Regions from separate parts of the Homo sapiens genome. Here region 2 is linked to region 1. A link means that fine-mapping ties the variant in region 1 to the expression of a gene that starts in the linked region. Tissue or cell type: testis. Region 1 holds a variant in brackets; the other region holds the start of a gene. All regions are shown on one strand. Distances are from middle to middle.

The links. PIP is the estimated chance that this variant, and not a neighbour inherited with it, causes the effect.
Region 2: ONECUT3 starts here. The variant in region 1 is fine-mapped to the expression of ONECUT3 in testis (GTEx, PIP above 0.99).

What each region holds. Positions count from the first base shown.
Region 1 is chr19:1,781,688-1,784,437 of GRCh38, forward strand. ATP8B3 (ATPase phospholipid transporting 8B3) reads right to left here. Exons shown (of 29, transcript NM_138813.4): 29 at 388-1,583. The coding sequence ends at 1,341. Among named protein-coding and RNA genes, the nearest start is that of ATP8B3, 29 kb to the right of the region's middle. The variant A/G (reference allele first, on the strand shown) is at 1,112.
Region 2 is chr19:1,752,383-1,755,132 of GRCh38, forward strand. It overlaps ONECUT3 (one cut homeobox 3), which reads left to right and starts at 1,124. Exons shown (of 2, transcript NM_001080488.2): 1 at 1,124-2,472. The coding sequence starts at 1,281.

The DNA.
Region 1 (2,750 bases):
GCACACCTTGTCAGGACCTGCTTCTGTGACATCACTGCTCATTGCTTTCTGGAGTCTAAAGTGAACGGAGGCCCCAGTGAATGAAGGTGTATTTGAATGGGAGAAACCAGGGCTTCCCGATAGAGGAAGAAGCTAGATGGTACAAGAACTGGAATTTATAAACTTTCTTGGGAGGGGCCAGCTGTCAGGCAGCGGGGGAGCCACAGCTTTTAATAAGCAACTTTTGAGAGCAATGAAGCTTTACCCACATTATCTTACCCCAGCATGAAGAAGGAAAGTTTTCCCTGCAAATACCCGGCTGGACCACTAGAGGTCAGTGTTTTGATTTTAAAAACCGGGAAGGAATATTCCATCACAAAAAAAGTGTAGGGAAAGAGGGAGCCTGAATTAGCGCTGGGGTCAGATGGACCCTGGTTTATTAGAAAAAGAAAAGCATGTGGAGTCCTTGTCTTTAGAGGAAGGCCCCCTGCATGCTGGTTGACTTGCAGCAGAACTGGCTGGAGCTTCTTCTTCCCAGGAAGGACATCTTCCTGATATGCCAGCGTGACTCCTTTGGGCTCGAAGATGCCTCTTCATCAGATGGGTCTAGGGATTCAGATGCTACGTCACTGCTGAACCCTGGTCCCCTCCGCAGAGGGCAATGACTGCTCCTCTGGGGGCAAGGATAGCTGCTCCTCCCCGGGCACCAGCAGCCACTCCATGGATGATGATGACTGCTTCTCCGCGGGCCACAGCTCCACCTCCATAGGCTGCTCGCTCGTGGACGTGGACGATTCTTCCAGACTTGGTGGCAGAGTCTCCACCTGAGATTTGTGGGTCTTGTCTGGAAGTGGCACCGTCCCCTCCTTGGGGGTGTGAGGCTCCTTTTGCCAGCTCTTCCGGAACGGTGTGGAGGGCTTCAAAAATGCTGACTTCTCCTCCGAGGAGTCTGGCTGGCTCTCCAACGTCAGCTGGCCTGAAAGAAATGACTGGCTCCCCAGAGGCTGTGGCTGGCTCTCAAATGACGACAGCTGGCTTTCTCTGTGCAACAGTGATTTCTCCTGAAAAGAATGTGACCTCTCCTTGGTCAACAGCAACTTCTCAGGAGAAGGTGGCCTCTGCTTGGGTGACA[A/G]TGACCTCTCCTGTGCCCTTGGCAATTGCTCTTGGAAAGACTCAGATAGCCTGTTGCTGCTGGTGAGCACATATTTGGGGAGGGCAGGTTGGTTTTCTGGATGAAGAGCGGATTGTCTATCCATAGAAAATGATGAGCTAGGTGTAGGGGGGAGCTGTACTTCCTGGGAGGACACCTGCCCCTGTGGCTGGTGCTTCTTCTTCCCCAGGAAGGACATCTTCCTGAGGTGTCACTGTGACTCTTTTGGGCTCGAAGCTGCCTCTTCATCAGATGGGTCTAGGGATTCAGATGCTATGTCACTGCTGACCCCTGGTCCCCTCCGCAGAATTGTGCCCTGAGTGATGAGGTTTGCATATCCCTCACGGTGGGAGAAAGCATAGCTGGAACGGCGGGCACGAGACTCCCGGTGTACATGAGGCAAGGGCTCCATGGTGAAAATCTCCTCGCTGGGGCCCTCCTCCACCTTCTCCTCCTGAAGAGCAAAGGGGAGAGCAGGGGAAGCAGACTCCTATGCTTGGCTGATGGCTCTCAGGTCCCCCAAGTAGGAGAGGCAGGATTCAAAGCCCTTGGCCACTATTGATTGGCTACGTTCTTCCCTACCCAAGTTGAGCCAATTAGAGTCCTCGACTCTCAGTGTTGAGTTCTAAGGAGGACTCTAGTCCTTTGCTTTTCAAGACCCACTAATTGGCCTTGCCCTGGAAACTAACCCTGGATCAGCCAATCAGAGTTATTCCCTGGGACTTAACTCGGGACCACCCAATCAGAGTCCTTCCCTGGGACTTAACCCTGGCTCAGCCAATCAGAGTCCTTCCCCGACTCTGGACCAGCCACCAGGTGCCTTGGCTGCCCTTTGGTGGCAAATCCAGGAGAGGTGAGCCTGGGACAGCCAGGTGCCCAGCCTGTGCAGTAAAGGTGGCAGGAGCTGGGCAGGGAGAACAGAGGTGGCAGGGCAGGTACACCATTCCAGTCAATTCTGGGGCCCATCTCAGCTGCAACTTGCTTTTCCATGCATGCTTTGGTTACGTGGGCTAGTAAGTCCCCTCCCTTTTTTTTGAGGTGGGGTCTTGCTCTGTTGCCCAGATAGGAGTGCAGTGGCAAAAATCATAGCTCACTGCAGCCTCAACCTCCCAGGCTCAAGCAAGCCACCTGCTTCAGCCTCTCAAAGTGCTGGGATTACAGGTGTGAACCGCTGCGCCTGGCCTTGAGCACATGTCCTCAAGGTGCATCCACGCTGTGGCCTGTGTCAGAGCCTCACTCCTTCTCACGGCTCAGGCGTGTTTCATTGCACAGATGGAGCGTGCCGTGTTGACCCACTCATCTGTCAACAGACTCTTATTTCTAAGTTCCTCCTTTTGCCTAAACCATTTCAAGGTTGTTTCCGTCATCTCAACCCCCAAGCTCTAGATCATTCACGGTAGAATCTGATGGTGTCAGCCAGGCACAGTGTGGCTCATGCCTGAAATCCCAACATGTTATGAGGCCAAGGCAGGAGGATTGCGTGAGCCCAGGAGTTTGAACCAGCCTGGGCACCATAATGAGTCTCCATCTCTAGAAAATAACTACAAAATTAGCTGGGCGTGGTGGTACATGCCCGTGGTCTCAGCTACTTGGAAAGCTGAGGTGGGAGGATCCTTTGAGC
Region 2 (2,750 bases), 29 kb before region 1:
CCCGGGGGTGGGGGGGGCAGAGGCAACGGGGAAGCAGGAAGGGGCTGAGGCTGGTTTTGGACTCTGCACCGTAGCCTCTGGCCTACAAGACAGAGCATCCTCTAGATTCTGGTCTGGCCCCTCCAGATCCGCAGCCCTGACCTTACCCCACTGGCGGGATCTAGTCCCCTGGGGGTCTCTCTGATTATAGGAGCCCTTCCCCCATCTATCCCAGTTCCCAGGGGCCCCTGGGGCTCACCTGTCTCCAGGTGCTGAGAAAAAGGAGACCCCTGCCTCCCCCCACATTGAAGAGAAGCCCCAGGGACAAAGAGGAGTTTGCACCAGCGACGTCTCAGAAGACAGGGGATCCAGCCTCAGCCTCCGTGGGCTGGAGGGTGACAGGGGCTCTTAGTGGTCACCCCCAGGCTCCAGTGCCTCCAGCGGCCGCACTGTAAAAAGGCCCTGCAATTAGAAGGGGCCTTTGGCAACCCCGAGGCCGGGCAGCCCATTGTACAGTTGGGGAAACGGAGGCCCAGGTGCCCACACATGGGCAGAGGCTGACCCCTGGGGCGCACGGAGGCCCTGACCTAGCCTTAGGACCTCCCTTTTCCCCCACTTCCTCCACAAAGAGGTTGTGGGAAGGGGGCTGTGACTCCGTAGGTGTGAGTGGGAGTCGGGGGAAGCTGAGCTTGCAGTGGGGATCTAGCTCCTGGGGGTCTGTAGGGAACGGGGGGGGGGGGGGACACGTACATTACAGGCGACCGTCCAGCCACACTCCCAGAAACTCCCTGGAGATGGACTTGGGGGTGCCAGGCAGAAAGCCACATCTGGGACTCTGGAGAGAATCACACAGAGACGCGAAATCGGAGACTCTGGGTCGAGGCCCCCAGCCCCACCTGGGCAGAGTCTGTCCTCGGACCCCCGCCCGCTGTCCCCCGGGTACGGCCTGCCCCAGCGGGCGCGGGCGGGCGCAGTGGCCAGGGACGCCGAAGCCCCAAGTCTGGCCGACTTCGGCCTGCTTGGTGCTCGAGTGGGGCCGGGGCGGGCGGAGAGCGAGGCTGCGGGAGGCAGCGGTGGCAGGAGCGGGTGGGCGGGGGCGCTGACGTCAGACCCGGGCCCGGGCGCCGGCGGCCGCTCCCCTGCCACATCCTGGTGGCCGCGCTCGCAGCCGGGCCGGGCCGTGCGCCGCGCAGCCTGGCAGCCTCGCGCGCAGCCACCGGGGAGCGGGCGGGAGTCATGCAGCGGCCTTGAGCACTAGGGGCCGGCGCTGAGGAGCGCGCGCGGCGGGAGGGCAGCCGAGCATGGAGCTGAGCCTGGAGAGCCTGGGGGGCCTGCACAGCGTGGCCCACGCGCAGGCGGGCGAGCTGCTGAGCCCGGGCCACGCGCGCTCGGCGGCGGCGCAGCACCGCGGCCTGGTGGCGCCCGGGCGCCCGGGCCTGGTGGCCGGCATGGCGAGCCTGCTGGACGGCGGCGGCGGCGGCGGCGGTGGGGGCGCCGGGGGCGCGGGCGGCGCGGGCAGCGCGGGCGGCGGCGCGGACTTCCGCGGGGAACTGGCGGGCCCGCTGCACCCGGCAATGGGCATGGCCTGCGAGGCGCCGGGCCTGGGCGGCACCTACACGACGCTCACGCCCCTGCAGCACCTGCCGCCGCTCGCGGCCGTGGCCGACAAGTTCCACCAGCACGCGGCGGCCGCGGCCGTGGCCGGGGCGCACGGCGGCCATCCCCACGCGCACCCGCACCCGGCGGCCGCGCCGCCCCCGCCACCCCCGCCGCAGCGTCTGGCGGCCAGCGTGAGCGGCAGCTTCACCCTCATGCGCGACGAGCGGGCGGCGCTCGCCTCCGTGGGCCACCTCTACGGACCCTACGGCAAGGAGCTGCCCGCCATGGGGTCGCCGCTGTCGCCGCTGCCCAACGCGCTGCCGCCCGCGCTGCACGGCGCCCCGCAGCCCCCGCCGCCGCCACCACCCCCGCCGCTGGCCGCCTACGGCCCGCCAGGCCACCTGGCTGGGGACAAGCTGCTGCCGCCCGCCGCCTTCGAGCCGCACGCCGCGCTGCTGGGACGCGCGGAGGACGCACTGGCCCGCGGGCTGCCCGGAGGCGGCGGCGGCACAGGCAGCGGCGGAGCGGGCAGCGGGAGCGCCGCGGGGCTGCTGGCGCCGCTGGGCGGGCTGGCGGCGGCCGGGGCGCACGGGCCGCACGGGGGAGGCGGCGGCCCCGGCGGGAGCGGCGGCGGCCCCAGCGCGGGCGCAGCGGCCGAGGAGATCAACACCAAGGAGGTGGCGCAGCGCATCACGGCGGAGCTGAAGCGCTACAGCATCCCGCAGGCAATCTTCGCGCAGCGGATCCTGTGTCGCTCTCAGGGCACGCTCTCCGACCTGCTGCGCAACCCCAAGCCGTGGAGCAAGCTCAAATCCGGCCGCGAGACCTTCCGCAGGATGTGGAAGTGGCTGCAGGAGCCAGAGTTCCAGCGCATGTCGGCGCTGCGCTTGGCAGGTAGGAGCGTGGCGCGCAGGGCCAGACCCTGGGGGCGCCGGCTCTGGACTCCCGAGCACCTAGCGGGGCGGCGGCCGATGCCCGGGGCCAGCGCCCCAAGCCCCGCCCGTGCGCCCCGGCAGCCCGGGACCCCCTATCAGGAAGCTAGACCGCGATCCGCGCCGCTGCCCGTTTGTACCGTTGCCAAAAGGGAGAAAGGGATTGTGCCGCCTCCCCGCCCCCCGGTCGCCGCTTCTGCCCCTTTCGGGAGCGCGTAGGGGTTCTCTAGTCCTTGTTAG